2 linked regions of the Homo sapiens genome follow. The protein of the gene in region 1 interacts with the protein of each later gene in a pairwise test. Each region holds a gene or a part of one and is shown in the gene's direction. Other genes may lie near its edges.

Region 1 (3,755 bases):
CTAGAAACAGATTTTGTCTATATCAGTCATATTTTAAGGAAGGAGGAATGGACTTCTTACATTTATTTTAGAGTATGATGCTAAAACCCGTGATTCTTCAGAGTAACAGTTACAGGACATTTCTCTAGAATCTTGGAGTGTTGGGTAGCCATTGTGGTTCTGCCTCAGGCTTGTGCCAAATATCAGTATGGTGTCTTCCTACCATGCCGAACTTTAGCCCATAAATGTTTAGAACTAGTGTTTGTTGATAGATTGATTTTCTGAAAGTATATAGATTCCAATGATGACATTTCTAAGTCTTTTTATAAGACTAAAGATCTGCCTTAGAGTTTGACGATGGCTTTCCATCAGAATTAGACAGATTTTTTTAAGAGGTCATTATGAGGCTGGCCCTGGTGGCTCACACCTGTAATCCCAGCACTTTGGGAGGCTGAGGTGGGAGGATTGCTTGAGCCCAGGAGTTTGAGACTAGCCTGGGCCACATAGTGGCATAGCTGACATAATGAGACTTTGTCTCTACAAAAAATTTAAAAATTAGCTGGGCATGGTGGTGCGTACCTGTAGTCCCAGCTATTCAGGAGGCTGAGGTGGAAGGATTGCATGAGGCTGGAAGGTTGAGGCTGCAGTGAGCTTTGATCACACCAGTGTAACAGAGCAGTCTCAGAAAAAGAAAGAAAATCATTTCCATCTCTCATTAATTTCTGCCTCTATTTCAGAATAGCCTATAGTTCATACTACAAAAAGTGCCACAGAAGTACATCATTGTAATGTTTTACATTTTTAATATGTAAATGATTAAAATTACTTTGTTCTTGATTTTTAAAAATCGGTTACTTATTTTTAATTTTTTTTTTTTTTTTTTTTTTTTTTGAGACAAAATCTCGCTCTGTCTCCCAGGCTGGAGTGCAGTGGCATGATCTCAGCTCACTGCAAGCTCCGCCTCCCGGGCTCATGCCCTTCTTCTCTCTCAGTCTGCTGAGCAGCTGGGACTACAGGTGCCCACCACCACGCCCAGCTGATGTTTTGTATTTTTAGTAGAGATGGGGTTTCACCGTGTTAGCCAGGATGGTCTTGATCTCCTGACCTCGTGATCTGCCCACCTTGGCCTCTCAAAGTGTTGGGATTACAGGCATAAGCCACTGCACCCGACCCCTTTAAATTTTAATACTCTTAAAATTTTCCTTCTAGTAATAGTTACTTGTACTAAGAATACAGTCTTGGCCGTGCACAGTGGCTCATGCCCCTAATCCTGGCACTTTGGGAGGCCAAGCAGGAGGATCACCTGAGATTAGGAGTTTAAGACCAGCCTGGCCAACATGGTGAAACCGAGCCTCTACTAAAAATACAACCATTAGCTGGGCATGGTGGCGGGCCCCTGTAATCCCAGCTGCTCGGGAGGCTGAGGCATGCGAATCCCTTGAACCTGGAAGGCGGAGGTTGCGGTGAGCCAAGATTGCGCCACTGCACTCCAGCCTGGGTGACAGAGCGAGACTTCGTCTCAAAAGATAACCAGGCTTCCTTTAATGCTTCTTATGTGTATGGAAGTCAGTATTAATCTTTTTGTTAGTACACTTACGAAATGCACTAAGTTCTACAGATTATCCCCACCTATGTAGAATTTGCTTATTGATTTTTAAGAATCTCTGGCTTTACACTGAAAAAAAGTAGATTTAAAAATAAAATAAAAAAGTGGAACCTCAACGTAATTCAGAATCTTCTAAGTGAAGCCACTTGTATCCTATAGGAAAAGACATATTTGATTTAAAGTAGAAGTCGGAAAAGAAAACCTCTTTCAAGGTCAGGAACCTTGAAAGCCTCCTATATTAAAATATTAATTTTGTAAGGAAAAGCACGTTTTCCATTTATATAATTGGTAACTTAAGGGTGGAAATAAAAAATGGCTAACACATATACATACACAAAAGAAGAGGAATTGAGAATAATGCATGCAAGGGAATATACTGAATGGTTTCTTGGAATTGAATATGGAATTGAATATGTGATGAATGCGCACATGTTGTTTTGGAAAAGTTAATTCCTAGAATTGATATCCTTAATTTGAGATAATTCTAAAGGACCTAGAACCATTGTAAGATCCAGGATAGTACTTTTCCACAAAGTAAATGCTCAATGAAACCTTTTAAAAAGTTGAACTATTAAATTTTTAAATATTTTAGTAGATGATATGTATTCTAATAATACATATGGGATTGATTGAGCAGAGTTAATATTTTAAAAATTTGGAGGCTTACACATCATAGCTGACATTACTCCTGTGTTGGCAAAAGGATTTGGAAGGGAATATAAGTGAAGAGATATGTCTAGTGTTTTCCCTTCTTGATTAAAAAAAAAATTCTTATCCTTTTATCTTAAATATTTTACCCTTCTTTTTCTTTCTGCTATTAAGGGAAAAGCTTTCAGCAGCAAAGGGAAGCCATGAAACAAACCATAGAAGAAGATAAGGAGCCAGAAAAATCAGGTTAGACACTTGTATTTGACATAAGTAAATGGTTTCTTGGGTCTTCATCTGGAGCCATGTGTGAATCTGCATATTAGAACCGTGAAGAAGTACTCAGGGAAAGAGTGATACAAGAGGCAAAACTGATTATCTCAGAACTGTAAAGAAAGGATAAGATTTAAGTATTAAAGATTATCTGTCTATACTGTGTAGTTAATTGAAAATTGTAAATGCTTTCCTGAAAAATAGTCTTTATACAAACAGTGTAATAAGTATTTATAAAAGTAAATTAAAAACAAGCTGGGTGTGGTGGTTTGCACCTGTAATCCCAGCACTTTGGGAGACTGAGGCGGGAGGATCACTTGAGGCCAGGAGTTCAAGACAAGCGTGGCCAACATATGGAGATCTCGTTTCTGCAAAAAAATTTAAAGAATAAATGAATGAATAAATAGAGTTCTTCAATTTGAGTTATGTGGTTTTGTTCACGGGAACACATTTATAGTTATGTTTATGATTGCTCAACAGGAAAACTGTGGTGTGCAAAGAAGAATAAAAAGAAGAGGAAAAAGGTTTTATATAATGCCAATAAAAATGATGGTAAGTTCTACTCTCAGGGATAGGTGGAATTATATCTGAAAGGAGTCTAAACCTAGTCCTGTTTTGCACCTTAATGTTAAATATGTGCTTGAGAAAATCATTTAGTAGAAAGTATTTTCTTTTGGAATCCTGTGAGTAAGGCAGTGTTTTGAATTCTGGGGAAAACTGATACAAAAATTCAAGTACTATTTAGCATATGTAGTATTAAATTGACAGTTTCCTGTAGTTTTTTTCTACTTAAACTCTTTGCAAAAATTATACTTCTAACAAATTCTTACAGAACATACTTGAAGTAAAAACTATGTCCTCTACAATAGCTCATGTCACAGAAGCAACTCATTCCTGAGAACCCACTACCTGCTGGCTAAGTCAGACACACAAGAGAATTTTAGTTTTATTTTGATTGATTGCTAAGATTAAAAAGCTCGAAAGTTGTAGCTTCTCTTAAAATCAAAAGCTCTGATAATGTTGGGCTAGTATTCCTAGGTGACAACAGTCTGCTGGACCTGAGTGATGACTGTTGCTCTTATATCAAGCACCTGGTGTCTAGTTTAACAGTCTCTACCACTCCCAGTGTTTTATTAACCCAACCTGATTTACTGATTTTATTACCTCCTTAGTTTGTTTTTATGGGCATTTGAGTTTGCTACTTCTGTTTGGTTCACATTAGAAGCAACCCAAATAATAAAGCAAAGGCTTT
Region 2 (3,007 bases), on another chromosome or scaffold:
TATAAATTATAGCTTCCTGGTTCTGTGTCTCAGCTGTTTCAGAACTTTCAGCCAAGTTAAATCTTTTTTGGTGTTGAAACTTTTAGTAAGTTGAGTAAGCTATTTTTTTCCCTACGGTAATCCACAATCTGTTCTTTGTGTGGGTTGACACCTATTTATAATTCTTAAAATAAGGGTAGCTCAAAGGAGCCAAGTACAGTAGTTTAGCTTGCTACTGTTGAGCATGAATAGCAGTAGGTTGTTTTCATTAATGCAGTTTTCATAATGTATCCCAGAATTTTAAATCTTGACCATAGAAAAATACAGTCATTCATTGGCAAAGATGTACAGTGGTGGTTTAGTGCAGTGAGGAAATGATGGGAATTTTTATCTTAGAAATGGATGATTCGTGAATAAAACTAGGTACATAGTAAGTGTATGATAGATGTTTGATTTGTAAATTACAAATATAAATTATCACCCCCATTTCCATTTATTTTCTTGATATATCAAAATGTGTTGACTTAGTGATTCTCAATCTTAGCTACATATTAGCCTGGCAGAGCTTTAAAAAATTGATACCTGGGTCCTATTCCATAACAACTAAATCAAAATCACCCTTTTTTTTTTTTTTGTAAAGCTTTCCAGGTGGTTCTAAAGGACACCTAGGGTCAATAACCCATTATAAAATGATCTGATTACACTGGACACTCTTAGGAAGTATCAAAATAGAACAGTTCAATTTGCAGCTACTTAATGATTAATTACATTTCTTAGGTTTTTTTTTTGTTTTTTTTTTGGTTTGTTTGTTTTTTGTTTTAAAAGAGACAGGATCTTGCTTTGTCTCCCAGGCTGGAACACAGTGGTGTGATCATAGCTCACTGCAGCCTGAAACTCCTTGGCTTCCACCTCAGCCTCCCAAAGCATTAGGATTATAGGCGTGAGCCACTGCACCTGGCCAAGTAATTTCTTTTAGGAATAAAAGGTACTTGGCATTCCTTATTTGGGAAGTAATTACAGTCTTATCTTTTTTTTTCTTTTTTCTTTTTTTTAATAAAATCTACCAGTAATTTAAATGTGAGCTTTTTATGTCTGTCATCATTCTGCCCCCTTTGCCTTTAAAACTTACAAAAATACGTGTTTGTTATTTGAGAAAGCATGTTTAAAAATTGCAGATGAGAAATATTGTCGTTAATAATTATGTACTGTCTTAATGTGGGCACTTCATTTGTTAGTATAATACTAGATAATAGCAGCCTAGTTCTTTAGGATTTGACGATTCAAATTTTTTTTTTGTTTTTTGTTTTTGTTTTTTTTTGAGACAGAGTCTTGCTCTGTTGCCCAGGCTGGCGTGCAGTGGTGTGATCTCGGCTCACTTCAGCCTCCGCCACCTCAAGGCAGTTCAAGCAATTCTCCTGCCTCAGCCTCCCGAGTAGCTAGGACTACAGGCGTGTGCCACCTCTCCCGGCTAATTTTTTTGTATTTTTAGTAGAGACGGGGTTTCACCGTGTTAGCCAGGATGATCTCGATCTCCTGACCTCGTGATTCGCCCGCCTCGGCCTCCCAAAGTGCTGGAATTACTGGCGTGAGCCACCATGCCCAGCCTCAAATATGTTTTTAAAAAATATCATTGTCCTCCTCCTCTTAAGATTTTTTTAAGTTATTTTGCTCAAGTACTTAAGTAGTCTGGCTCAAGTACTTTGTTTACAATTAAAATGGATATTATAGCATTTAATAGAAGAAATGGTTATGGCTTATCCAAAAAGAATGTCAGCATGACCTGGTGTAGACTTAAAAAACTACATGTTTGTGAATATTTTATAATGTGGAATGATCATTGAAATATCAAGGATTCTAGTAATTGTATTTCCTGAATAAATGTATGTTTATGAATTTTCTAACTTACATTTTGTTGTGTCCTCTGCCAACAATCTGGTTTTATAATTGTTGTCTAAAGTTTGCTAGTAGTGTTTCTTCAAAGGTTATTCCAGGTATGGTTAAGTAGTGAGAAAAATCACTTATTAATTTTCAAGAACTTTGAGACTAATTTGTATTGACTCGGTTTTTTAAAATAACTGGCAAATGCTATGCTTCTACTTTTAAAATTTGTGGTAATACCCAGAATGGATGTAAAATAACATTTTTCAATAGATTACTTCATTTATCAATTTAATTCTGATTTTAAGGCTTATTTAAAATAAATTTGTATGAGTTATGTCCTCGTTCTTTGGATTTGAAAAAAGTTGATATAACTACACAATAGATAACGTTTATGAAAGGTATGTATAAAAAAACATAATTCCTGGTGGCTGCTGAAATGAAACTTTGAATTTCTATATTTTGCTTTGTCTTTCATAAAATTTAAAGAAAACATTTTCTTGTGTTATTTCAAGAGCGGCAGTATGACGTGATTGAGAGCACAGATTCTGAAGCCAAACAACTCTGGTTTCAATCCCAGTTCCACCATTACCGTGTGTCACCTTAGACAGGTTGCTTGATTTCTTTGTGCCTTAGTTCCCTCACCTGTCATTTGTTAATAAGAATGCCTGTAAGTGTCATGCCATTTTCTGTAAGGCCCTTAAAAAGGTGCCTGGCATAGTAAATACTGTTTGTGTTTGCTTTTGTTCATGTAAAATAGCTTCAGAACCTTATGAGCTAAAGGAAATAATTCTGGTCAAAAAATTAAAATTAGCAAGTTTTTATTTTTGGTATTTAGAAAACAACCTTTATGCTTAAAAACTTTAGAAGAATAAGATTCATAAGAAATTATCAAATTTATATTTTGATCAAAGAAACTCGGAATTTTTAAATTGGAGCTTTGAGGATTGAAGCCATATTCTAATGAAAATCATTGGAAAATAAGTCCAAGTAAGGATTTGTTAAATTAACCTTTAAGGTGATGACCTAGGCATAGAGACAGGAGACTACTGGACTAGGTGTTAGACAGTCCAAGGCATCACCACCATTAACTTTAAAAAAGTGTGGAAATGTGCCACACAGCCGAGGAACAACAAAAAGCATTTAGTGT

The links. The genes of interacting proteins can lie anywhere in the genome.
Region 2: the proteins of PALS1 (region 1) and LIN7C interact in binary tests that used the Homo sapiens proteins (3 or more experiments, as listed by UniProt).

Annotation. Positions count from the first base shown.
Region 1 is NC_000014.9:67,314,425-67,318,179, forward strand, and holds part of PALS1 (protein PALS1), read left to right. Parts: intron 1-2,407; coding exon 2,408-2,479; intron 2,480-2,983; coding exon 2,984-3,055; intron 3,056-3,755. UniProt on the Homo sapiens protein: Plays a role in tight junction biogenesis and in the establishment of cell polarity in epithelial cells.
Region 2 is NC_000011.10:27,493,763-27,496,769, reverse strand, and holds the end of LIN7C (protein lin-7 homolog C), read left to right. Parts: 3' UTR 1-2,352; downstream 2,353-3,007. UniProt on the Homo sapiens protein: Plays a role in establishing and maintaining the asymmetric distribution of channels and receptors at the plasma membrane of polarized cells.